2 separate regions of the Homo sapiens genome follow, and region 1 is linked to region 2. Evidence: fine-mapped expression QTL. A gene starts in region 2. The other region holds a variant in brackets. All regions are shown on one strand. Distances are between the middles of the regions.

Region 1 (2,913 bases), 250 kb after region 2:
ATGGAGATAATTAAGAAAACTATGGAAAAAAAAAAAGAGAAGAGGAGGAGGGTTTTGGGCTGAATAACACTAGCTGACCTGGGTAGACCGAATAAAATGGTATTATTACTGAGTCCTTCACATACTATTGTAGATTCTATCAAAATTCAGAATTCCAGGGATGTCAGGCTGATTTGCTGAATTGCTGTTTCCAACATCAATGGCTAGGTCTTTTGCTGTCATATGGTGGTAATAATCCATCACCTTTGTCTACAAGTGGACATCCACAAAGTGGTCTTCTAAGAACTGTTAAACACATCCCAGTTTTTTTTCTTACCAAGTAGGAATTTATCATATGATAAGGCAGAAATTTATCTTTGCAGTATCCATGGAGAAACAGAGGCTGACTAAAGCAAATAGGTAAGGAGAAAAGAGACAGATACCATTTGTTTATGGGTGCTATTTTCAAGGACTTCAGAATGCTTCATTGTAATAGTATGACCATTGCAAATCAGTTTTCTGGTCATTTTGAGCAAACCTCCTAAGCATCTTTTTCTCTCGATAGCTTGATTGCAATCAGTGTACATACTTGAAAACAGTAGCAATTAAATTATTCTAATTGAGTATTCCCCCAATCTGGTATTCCATATAGATTTGTGAGGTTTTATTCTACAAATGAAAAGACAAAAGCACCAGAGCAGAAATGTGTAAGTGGCACAGAAATACACACTTTAATGTGTACATTGTAACCTGGAAACATTTCAAAAGCCTAATTTTCCTCATATTGGGAAGGATGAGGCCTTGAAGATGGAATTGCCTCTCTGTTTCACTAAGACGTAGTTTTGAAAACCTAAAATTAGTTCACATCGCAATAACAACAACCCCGGCTTAAGGAATGTAAGAGAATGCCAACTTAAGTTTCCTGGACGTTTTCTCTTCTCAGTGACAAATGAGATTGTTACACTCAACTATTTGGAACCTCGGACAGAATATGAACTCTGTGTGCAACTGGTCCGTCGTGGAGAGGGTGGGGAAGGGCATCCTGGACCTGTGAGACGCTTCACAACAGCTTCTATCGGTCAGTGGAAGCCAACAGGCATTTATTCATGAGCTGGGTGGGAGGGGGAGGAAGGGGAAAGAGGAAGGAAGACCAGGAAGGGTGGTGGTGGGTGAGTGGGTGGGTGGGGATGGAGGTGGCAGGAGTTCGCTTTTGAATGGGTGGGAAAGTGACAGGAAGGCTAGCAACTTCAAGCCAAACTGTTCCTTTATTTGGGTTGGACTCCTGGTCTGTCTCCCTGGGGGAGGAGGTCTGCAGCACTCTGTAGGGACAGAGAAGGAAGCAGATGAGCCTTCAGGAAGGCAGGGCCTCCCCTAGGAGCTGGGATTTACACAGCAGCAACTGTGCTGAGCTTCAGCTCCTGCATTTTATCACTGGCTTCCTGTTTCCATCTTAAGGGCCCAGACCAGGCTCTTGCCACAGGCATATTTTAGAAGTCCCAGTTTATTTATTTTCAAAAATAATTTCCAATTTTTCAAAGTAATTCATGGTCAGAGTCATGACATCAAATAGAATAAGAAGCTTTTATCTAAAGAACAGCATTCTCCTGCTCCACCCTCCACCTCCCAGTCCTGCTTCCTATAGGTAGCCACTTTCATCTCCTTAAGCTATTTCTTATATTTACCTCCCTTTTCTAAATCAGTGGTTCTCAAACCTAAGTGTCCATCAGAATCACTCAGAGAGTTTGTTAAAAGATGTTTCTGGGCCTCGTCCCCAGAGTTTCGGATTCAATGGTTTTGAGGTGAGGATGGGGCCGGGGTTCAAAAATTTGCATTTCTAGTAG[G/C]TTCCCAAGTGATGCTGCTGGTCCTGGGTCCACACGTTCTAGATAACATGTGTAAAATTACTTCTGGACTTCTCAGTGGTGTTTGGTATTGACTGGCCTTCTATTGCGTTAATTAACTCTGTGAAGCCTCCTTGATGCTAACCTGACCTCCAGCTTTCTGTTACCCAGGTACCCTCCATTGAAATACTGGAGTGATCTTTTGTAAGGTTCCATTCCTGGTTCTTTGAATTGTTCACTGTGTATAACCATTCTGTTACTCTCTCTTGGTCAGTACTTTATACTTTCAACTTCATATATATTTGATTTATATCACCTAGGAAAGTAAGAATTATCATCTTCCCTATTTTACAGATTGAAAAGTAGAGACTCAGAGTACTTAATAACAGTAAGATGCATCACCATACTAAATCTTCGGGCTTCATATCTTTGTCTTTTAGAGCCAGGATCTTGCTCTGTCACTCAAGCTGGAGAGTGCAGTGGTTTGATCAACACTCATTACAGCCTCTATCTCCTGGGCTCAAGTCATCCTCCCACCTCAGCTTCCTGAGTAGCTGGGACTACAGGCACACCACCACATCTGGCTACTTCAAAAAATTTTTTTTGTAGAGACGGGGTCTTGCTTTGTTGCCCAGGCTGGTCTTAAACTCCTGCCTCAAGCAGTCCCCCAGCCTTGGCCTCTCAAAGTGTTAGGATTACAGGGATGAGTCACCACTCCCAGTCCAGGCTCCATATCCTTTTGTTTCTCCAATTATTATTTCTACCTAGAATCCCAAAGGCACCAGCTTATTATCCCAGTTCACATATTTGCCTGTGTTTTACTCCATTTACTAAAAGTAGAAGGATATGTTATGATTGAGTGAAAAAACCAGGAAGAACATCCACTTTTCTTCTGCAGAGATTGTGCACCCTTAACAGAAACATCCTTCCTTCACACCACCCACCTAGTTTTTATGTTACTAGCAGCATCCTTAAAGAACCAAATGAGACTCAAAAGCTACTCTGAGACTTATAGAAGCATTACACACAAGTAAGAAATGGCTGCTTGGGGACCCACCTGGTTGTGAATATAAAAAATAAACCCAGAAACTATATA
Region 2 (2,913 bases):
AGAAAGCTCCAGAAACACTGGCAACTTGTCTGTCTTTATTCCTCTCCAGTATCCCAAACAAAGAGGAGGCACTCAACAGTTATCAACTGAATTTATGGATGGTGACTCAAATTCTAAAATCTCTAGCAGTGGGAGACCTACTAAATAACAAAATAACTAACCTCAATTTTTCTTTCTCTGAACTGCAATCTGTCTTCTAGGTCTTAAATATCCTGTTACAACCAGCCAAATCAGGGCTGAACCCGTGAACTCGATCAGGACTGATTCCTAACCTTTTTCTTCTTTTTTTTTTTGGTTCGTGAACCCTTCTGATAAATCCTTTGAAGGCAATGGATGCTGCTTCTCCTCAAGAAACAGCACATGCACAGAAACAAAACATCCGAGAGGTTTCACTCCCTCAGGACCAGCACAGACCACAGACTAAAATTCTAACCTGGACGAAAAGAGGATTCACCAGTGCAATTTTTGAGAACTAAAGTCTTCAAAAATTAAATTTTACAGAAGACTACAGAGCATCTTCTTCGAAAAAAAAAAAAAAAGAGGACATTTCAGATGCCTTCAAACTACCTCACTTCGGAGGGTGCAACTGCAATCAGTAAATTTTCAAGTCTAAAAGAAACTTGGGAGATCATCGTCCAAAAACTGAAGGCCCAAAAGGTAGGAGACTCGTCTGTGGTCAAGTTAGCACAACAAGGCAGGTCTTTGGTCCCCCAACCCTGTGCTCTTTCCACTTAAATCCCGATGGTTTCTTACAGAGTTCTAATAGTCTGAGAATTGGAAGGGAGCGGAGAGCAGAGGGAAGGCTGGGGGGAGAGAGAGACGGCAGGACTGACAGGGAAGGGTCACTCTCCTTCCACTCTCCGGGAAGCGTGCAACACAGCCGGGGCAACCCGACTCCCAGCGCTCACCTGTCTGGGGCCCAGAGGCGGGTGGTGCGGTCTCGGGACACGGACACAAAGGCTCCCGGCGGATAGGCGCAGCACACCAGGCCCCGTACGTCCAGCTCGTGGCCCCGGAGCGAGCAGCTCAGCCGGTACCTGGTTGCGCCGCTCGTCATGGCCAGTGTCTGTCTGGCGCCCGGTGCCCAGGCACTGTGCGAGACCAGTCCGCAGGGGCGACTCGGAGAGCGCCGGGCCGCGGCGGGAGAAGAGCCTGCAGGTAAGGGGCGGCCGGAGACCGGAAGAGCCCGAGAGCCGGTACGGAAGGGCGGCTGGGAAGGGGCGCGCCGAGCGGGCCGAGTGACACAGCAAGCCTGACAGGCACTCCGGAATTCATCATCGGCCTCAGCCCTCCATGACGCAGAGTGTGTGCGTCCCAACCGCCGACGCCGATGCGGAGCTGAGCTGGCTTTCCTCCAGGGCTCTGGACTCCCTGCTGAGCAAGAGAGAAAGAGGCCCGCCCTTCCACCAGGACGCCTGACCCTGGGGTCCTTCCCAAACCCGGGTCTCTTCCGACTCCGGGCCCAACAGTTTGTGGTAAATCGGGAAGCGGGCCGGGACTACAATTCCCATAATGCCGCGCCAGCTGGCGTGGACATCCGGCGCGCCGAATCCGGATATTTTAAACCTGAGTCTTTCGCGCTGGGCATGGCGGAATGGCTGAGTGAGGTTGTTTGGTGTCTACTGTTAGGTCATCCTCACTGCTTTTCCCTGAGAATCTCGAGGTTTTTGCAAGTTAACCTTGTTTTTCAATTAAAACGAGAAAGCTTGAGGCCAAATTGGGAACTATTAATCATTGAACTATTCCTCCGTTTCAAGTTATCTGAATCTCCTACTCTCTGTTGTCAAATTTAGCAAATACGGTGGTCCAAGTCAATTTTTTAAAGGTATAACTACTTTTCTCTGGCGGCTTGTTAAAATGTAGATTCTGATTCAGTAGGTCTGAGTTAGAGCTGAGATACGTATTTTTAACAACCCCGCCGCCCACCCACCCGTGGTGCTACTTGCTAGTCATTATCAGACCTTATTGAGTGCCAGGGTAAACATGACCTGTCTCCTTACTTTGTTTTCTTCCCATCCGCTATTCTCTCGCATCCAACTACACTTTTCCACAAACCTTTCTAAATTGCTAAGCCCAATTCACACTTTTCTGACTTCTCCCTTCCTAAAACTCCTACTCTAGGTTTGGAATCACTTTTCCCCTGGTTTGGGAGATCATTCTTGAAATGCTGACTTTTGATACTTCTTTGCTATCATATCCCCTCCCTGGGTGGATTATTTACTACTTGGCTTATTTCTAGAGCTGTATTCCCATATTGTCTTCTCCAAACTCTAGATCTGTATTTCTAGCTATCTGTTAGAAATCTGTACCAATTAGTCCTACTTAAATTATTTCAACATTTCTCTGGCCTTTCTACCCCTTCTCTCCAGCCAATCCTACACATTAAAATATAATTATCTTTCTGAAATATACACTTAATTGTTTTTTCTCTGTTTGACAACCTGTGATGGCTTTCCATTATTTTTTTTTTTTTTTTTTTTTTTTTTTTTTTTTTTTTTTTGAGACGGAGTGTCGCTCTGCTGCCAGGCTGAGTGCAGTGGCGCGATCTCGGCTCACTGCAACCCTCGCCTCCCGGGTTCAAGCGATTCCTGCCTCAGCCTCCCGAGTAGCTGGGACTACAGGAGCGCGCCACCATGCCCAGCTAAATTTTGTGTTTTTAGTAGAAACGAGTTTCACCATGTTGGCCAGGATAGTCTCAATCTCTTGACCTCATAATCTGCCCTCCTCTGCCTTCCAAAGTGCTGGATTATAAGCGTGAGCCACCACGCCTGGCCGGCTTTCCATTCTTATAGTACAGCATTACATAGGGCCTTTCACACAATCTCCCTAATCTGTTTTACTAGATTCATCTCCCTCTGTTATCTCTCTTACTCTAGACATTTCGAATTTGTCACAATTCCCTGAACACATTAT

Alleles and levels. Positions count from the first base shown, and alleles are read on the strand shown. Sizes are in standard deviations (SD) of each study's normalised expression.
In carriers of allele C in region 1, the expression in neutrophils of the gene that starts at base 1,254 in region 2 tends to be higher than with G alone (moderate effect, 0.49 SD a copy in BLUEPRINT).

Evidence for each region.
Region 1: its variant is fine-mapped to the expression of PLAA in neutrophils (BLUEPRINT, PIP 0.95).

The regions. Positions count from the first base shown.
Region 1 is chr9:27,191,567-27,194,479 of GRCh38, forward strand. It overlaps TEK (TEK receptor tyrosine kinase), which reads left to right. Exons shown (of 23, transcript NM_000459.5): 11 at 923-1,057. Among named protein-coding and RNA genes, the nearest start is that of TEK, 84 kb to the left of the region's middle. The variant G/C (reference allele first, on the strand shown) is at 1,821.
Region 2 is chr9:26,945,989-26,948,901 of GRCh38, forward strand. It overlaps PLAA (phospholipase A2 activating protein), which reads right to left and starts at 1,254. Exons shown (of 14, transcript NM_001031689.3): 1 at 909-1,254. The coding sequence starts at 1,057. It also overlaps a transcript of IFT74 not described here. RefSeq lists enhancers at 329-1,004, 748-1,007, 1,005-1,678, 1,268-1,577.